Regions from separate parts of the Homo sapiens genome. Here region 1 is linked to region 2. The links come from fine-mapping of genetic effects on gene expression. A gene starts in region 2. The other region holds a variant in brackets. All regions are shown on one strand. Distances are between the middles of the regions. Region 1 has its middle 5.7 kb from the start of LINC01404. Region 2 holds the start of VHRT (ventricular heart development associated lncRNA).

Region 1 (2,914 bases), 27 kb after region 2:
TAAACCTAAGACAGTTCTTTAAAAAGTCTATTCAAATATTGAATTAATATTTGATGGTTATATTATGATGATTGGGTTTTGTTGTTGTTGTTTTCTTGTTGTTTTGAGAGACAGGGTCTCACTTTGTCACCTAGGCTACAGTGCAGCGGCAGAATCATGGCTCACTGCAGGCTTGACCTCCCAGGCTCAAGCAATCCTCCCACCACAGCCTCCCAAGGTTCAGGGATTACCGGCATGGAGCCACCATGCCCAGCCTGATGATTGTTTATATTATTCACAACTGGGCCACTTCGTGTGCTATGACTATAACATTTTGTTTTTCCTAGAGTTAGCCATTGCCTCTTTTTTTTTGTCTTCTGTGTTCTTATCAATAACTCACCCCAGGCTCTCTGCTATTCTTATAAATCTCTCAATACATTCAAGAACACTGAGTAATTTATCAGTTTAATTTATTTTTTGGCTTCAAGTGCTACTGCATTGTCCTAATACTCCATTGTCGTAATACTCCCTCATTCAGATGGTAGCAGGGTTTTAAAACACTAAAGTAGTTTTAAATCTATCTTTTAAAAAAAAATCTCAATTTTACTGCTGGAGAAGGCTGTAGAATTCATCAGAGAAAGAATAGAAATTGGGCATTCCTCTAACCACTGAACAGTTCTTTCCTTCCAACACCTAGCTCCTCTTAGCACATTTCTTTGTGTATTACAGTCAGAAAATAACAGGATATTGGACTTTCCAGGGCTTTTCAGTCTTTGGTTTAGGACTCTCCCTTAGGCTGATGGACAACAATTATCATAATAGCTACCATTTCTTGCATATCGTCTGGATGCCAGGCACTGTGCCAGGCACTTACATGCAGGATCTTATGTGACCTGCATAGCAACTTACTAAATTTGTCACCTTGGGTGTGGCACATGCCCAGTGAAACACCATCCTCAGGATTATTGTTTCAACCTGCCAACTTTATTCATTTATCTCCCTGTCTAGCCCCCTAGATGCCATCTGAGGCTTTGACATTCTTCTCTAGGAAAGACCATATTTCCAAGTTCCAGATGGAAAATGGACTGGTTATGGCCAGTCCCTGTGGCTTCCTATGGCAGCTTAAAGGGCTCATCTTGCAGGATCCTGCCCTGGGCTCCCTCTTCCTCCTGTGTGCCGGATATGATGACAGCTGTCAAGAGGGACAAGGCATTTCAGGTGGGAAGTTTTCTAGATCCAAAATGGGGATCAGAAGTCACAACTCCAAGCACCAGGGCTTGCCCTGGGGCTGACTTCTCTTGAATCATTTCCTCTGAGATTCATGTTTTCCCATAAGAACCACTTGAATCCCCTCTTATTAGTCTCCCTCTGTCGTGAGCACTGGCCGCACCCCTGTTCCTGTGT[G/A]TAAATTCTCCTGCTTCCCCAAGGGCTGTTTCTTGGCTGAGGTTTATCAGGCATCAGAGCATCTACTCCACAAGGTCACATGACTCTGGCATCTTCCCACTCATGCATTTCTTTTTTAAAAAATTTTTATTTTATTTTATTTTATTTTATTTTTGAGATTGAGTCAGGCTCTGTCACCCAGGCTGGAGTGCAAAGGCATGATCTCTGCTCACTTGCAACCTCAACCTCTGCCTCTCGGGTTCAAGTGATTCTCCTGCCTCAGCCTCCAGTGTAACTGGGATTACAGGCACGCACCACCCCCGGCTAATTTTTGTATTTTTAGTAGAGGTGGGGTTTTGCCATGTTGGCCAGGCTGGTCTTGAACTCCTGACCTCAAGTGATTCACCCGTTTTGTCCTCCCAAAGTGCTGGGATTACAGGCATGAGCCATCACGCCTGGCCCCTACTCATGCGTTTCCATCTAGCCATGGCCAGGCTGCCTGCAGCCAGTGTAAAATACCAATCCATCTTGATCTATACACTTTTAATGAGCAACTACTATGTACCAGGCATTGGGCATTATTTCAGTGTTTCTCAAACTTCAGTCATTTGAATTCTGCTTCCCAGGTTTTCCAAGTTTCATCTGTACTACTTTTGACTTAATATTTTTCTTTAAATTGGCTCCTTTTTTGTTTCAATAAATTTATTTTGAAAAGGAACTTTAGAGCACTGCCATCAGTGAAAAAAACAGTAGACAGTAATATTTTTCAAAAGTAGACAGTAACCTTAAAATAAATGCATAACTATTAAAATAAAAACTTTTGCTCTCTGTCCCCCTAGTACCCACCAATGCTGCATATACCTGGAATGATGCTGCTTTTCACCCCATTCCCACAAGGTGGGTTTCATTGCCATCTCCATTCTACAGATGTGGGAACTAAGGTTCAGAGGGGTGAAGGGACTTGTCCAAGGAAAGAGGTTTGGAAAGTGGTGGGATCGAGGTTCAAATCCAGGTCTGTCTGGAATGAACACCAATGAGCCTCAACCACAAGGCTTGGGGTCTCTGAGGCCCAGTCTTGGTTCCCAAGGTGCATGCAAGGGTCTTCTGTCTTCCCAGTGGTGGTATGCATTGATTCCCCAGGATGATGAAAACTTGCTGTACCCCCTTCTCCATTTATCCACAGATAAAAGAGGCAGAGATTACCGTGAAAGCTTCCTGATGGTGTGAGAGAGTCACAGAGGTTCAATCTCACATCACATGACCCAGCTTTGTTCTCTGCCCATTCACTAACCACTATCTGTACTAATCTCTGGCGGGAGCTGATTGGACCAAGCTAGGCTCCTGGCTCCGGCTGGGCCAATCGGATTCTCTCCTCTACTCTCTCTTTCTCTGTCCTCTAGCTGGGCTTGGGTCAAGGTGAGGAGACAATCAGCCCAAAGCGGACCCCGAGTGGAAGGTGGTTGGTGTCCCAAAGGCAAATTAGGGTGCTGGTATCTGAGCAGGAAAAAGAGATATCAGGAAGGCCAAACAACAGACATTCCCTGTGGGCATA
Region 2 (2,914 bases):
GAGTTGTCTCTGTGACTCTGTGGGGGTTCCCTCTTGTGGTCCCAAGATGGTGGCAGCAGAGCCAAGTGTCCTGTCCTCACGACACTACGTTCAAAGCAGAAGCTGGGGCGGGGGTGGTGGCAGTGGGGGTGGGGTCAGGTGCAAATGTTTCTTTACTTCTTATGGAGGACAATATCTTCATGGGGAAGCCCCTAGGAGACTTTTCATACATCTCACTGGCCAGAACAAGGTAAGGCGCCCACATCTAGACCAAGTCTGACCTACCTGCTTTGACATCCAAGGTTCTTTGGCCTAATCCTGAACATAACCAGAGTTCTATTAGCAAGAAAAAAGACAGCAAATGGACTTGGGGTAGGCAATGAATAATGTCTGCTCCACCCACACCCCCAGTAACTGAAGTAATATTTCCCCAATATATATGGTACAGCACACAATATCCTGCAACAAAATGGTTCTATAGGCTGGGCGTGGTGGCTCACGCCTGTAATCCCAGCACTTTGGGAGGCAGAAGTGGGCGAATCATTTGAGGTCAGGAGTTCGAAACCAGCCTGCCCAACATGGTGAAACTCTGTCTCTACTAAAAATACAAAAATTAGCTGGGTGTGGTGGCGCATGCCTGTCATCCCAGCTACTTGGGAGGCTGAGGCAGAAGAAGCTCTTGAACCTGAGAGGCGGAGGTTGCAGTGAACTGAGATGATGCCATTGCACTCCAGCCTGCGCGACAGAGTGAGTCTCTGTCTAAAAAAAAAAAAAAAATTTTCTGTAGCCAACAAGAGAGTCTAGTTCAACAGGTTCCCCAGTTGCAGATCTTCTCAGAGCCTTTAAACAATGATGACTACTTATTGACTATTTGCCAGCTGCTGTGTCCATAGCTACATCTCTATTATCTCATTAAATCCTTATAATAACTCTAAGGGACAGAGGAAATAGAAACTAAGGAAGGGGGCAGAGCCAGGAATTGAACCCAGGACTCTGATTCTAGACTCCTATGCTGTCCTTTTACTACAGAGCAAACATCTACTAAAAGGGACAAGTTATTCTTCTCTGGGGGATACTGAATTAAGACTGAAAGCCTGGAAACTTCCAGCTTCTCTCTTGCTATTCCTTTCTCCCCGTAGATTGCCCCTGGCTCCTGGGAGAGGAATTCAGATTAAATCTCATGTCTTCGGTGTGGATTCCCAAAATTGAAGTCTGCTCTTTTTAAAATTTTTTTGGTAACACCTTGTTTTTCTCTTTCAGGGCACTTACCTTAGTTTTTAGTCAGGTATTTTCATTTATTTGTGCGTTAGGGACTTGTCTCTTTTACTGTAATATCGGCTCCATAAAGGCTGAGGTTTTTGTCTGTCTGTTTTGCTGCTGTAGCCCCAGCACCAAGAACCGTGGCTGGCACACAGTAAATTCACAGTAAAAATGTCGAGTCAATGAACAATCTTGACTTGGCTAATTGATAGGGTTTGGCTGTGTCCCCACCCAAATTTCATCTCCAATTGTATTCCCCACTTGTCGGGGGAAGGGCCTGGTGGGAGGTGATTGTATCATGGGGGCGGAGCTCCCCCTCCCCCTTGCTATTCTCGTGATAGAGCTCTCCTCACTTCTCTCTCTGTCTCTCCTGCCACCATGTGAAGAAGGTGCTTGTTTCCCCTTTGCCTTCCGCCATGAGTGTAAGTTTCCTGAGGTCTCCCAGTCATACTGCTGGTTAAGCCTGCAGAACGGTGAGTCCATAAAACCTCTTTTCTTCATAAATTACCCAGTCTCAGGTAGTTCTTTATAGCAGTGTGAGAATGGACTAATACACTAATACATTTCCTCTTTCTGAAACTGCATGTGCACATTTGTTAAAAAGGCTGGGTAAAAACTTGTTTTGAAATTCTGGTTTTGTGGGGTGGGTTTGATAAAAGGATACATGCTCACCACAAAACCTGCGAGGAAACCTAGGGAAACCAGAAATTCCAAAAAGAGATCCCTGGGAGTTGGCCTTGAATTGCACCTGGCTTCCATCACGGTCAGCCTTGGCCTCAACAGGAGAAACCCATTCATTGCGAGACGCGGACTCTGCTTGAATCCGGGTCCTGCAGCTGAGAGAATGGGCTGCATTTTTTTTCTCGGCTCCTCTTCCTTTCTGAAAAGGCCTCCCGCAGATCCATCTGGCTGCCTCACCCCCGATGACCTTTCCATCCTGTTCCTTTCCAAATTCCCAGGTGTACTTGTTTGAAATGTATCTGGCCCAATCGCTGAGCGTCCGCGCTGCATTTCTCCAAACTGCCCAGCAGGGGGCGGTGCTACCTCGGCTCCGCGCAGCCACGGCTTCCCGCTGGCGAACCAAGGGCGCGGAATCTGGAGAGGGCGAGGAACATCTTTCCTCCCACCTGTCCCCCGCCAAGCCTGCCAGACCCGTCTCATCCGTGCTGCTGCTTCTGAAAATCAGAAGAGTGAGGATGAAATAAAGTCTTCATAAAGGAAAACCATTTGCTTGTTTAGATTTCATTCATTCACTACTCAAATATTTACTGAGCTCCTACTGTGTGCCAAGCCTTGTTCTAAGCCCTGGGAGTCAACAGGGAACAAAACAGACACAAATTCCAATTCCTGCCTTCCTGGAGCAGTCCTTCCTGCTGGGGGCCGGTGGGCAGGAGGTCTTAGATGACAAACGTAATAAATAAGCAAACGACCTAGGAGGTTAGAAGTTGATACCTTCTATGGAGTAAAATAGGAAAATAGAACAAGGTAAGAGGGAAGAGAGACAGAGACAAAAAGGAAGAAAGAGAGAGATAAACACGATTTTTTTTTTTTTTTTTTTTTTTTTGAGACGGAGTTTCAGTCTGTCACCAGGCTGGAGTGCAGTGGTGCGATCTCGGCTCACTGCAACCTCTGCCTCCCAGGTTCAAGTGATTCTCCTGCCTCAGCCTCCCGAGTA

Evidence for each region.
Region 1: its variant is fine-mapped to the expression of VHRT in testis (GTEx, PIP 0.95).

Annotation. Positions count from the first base shown.
Region 1 is chr12:110,962,055-110,964,968 of GRCh38, forward strand. No RefSeq gene overlaps it. Among named protein-coding and RNA genes, the nearest start is that of LINC01404, 5.7 kb to the left of the region's middle. The variant G/A (reference allele first, on the strand shown) is at 1,384.
Region 2 is chr12:110,934,987-110,937,900 of GRCh38, forward strand. It overlaps VHRT (ventricular heart development associated lncRNA), which reads left to right and starts at 1,616. Exons shown (of 2, transcript NR_036513.1): 1 at 1,616-1,712; 2 at 2,199-2,462. RefSeq lists enhancers at 879-1,572, 1,573-2,266 and a silencer at 2,179-2,473.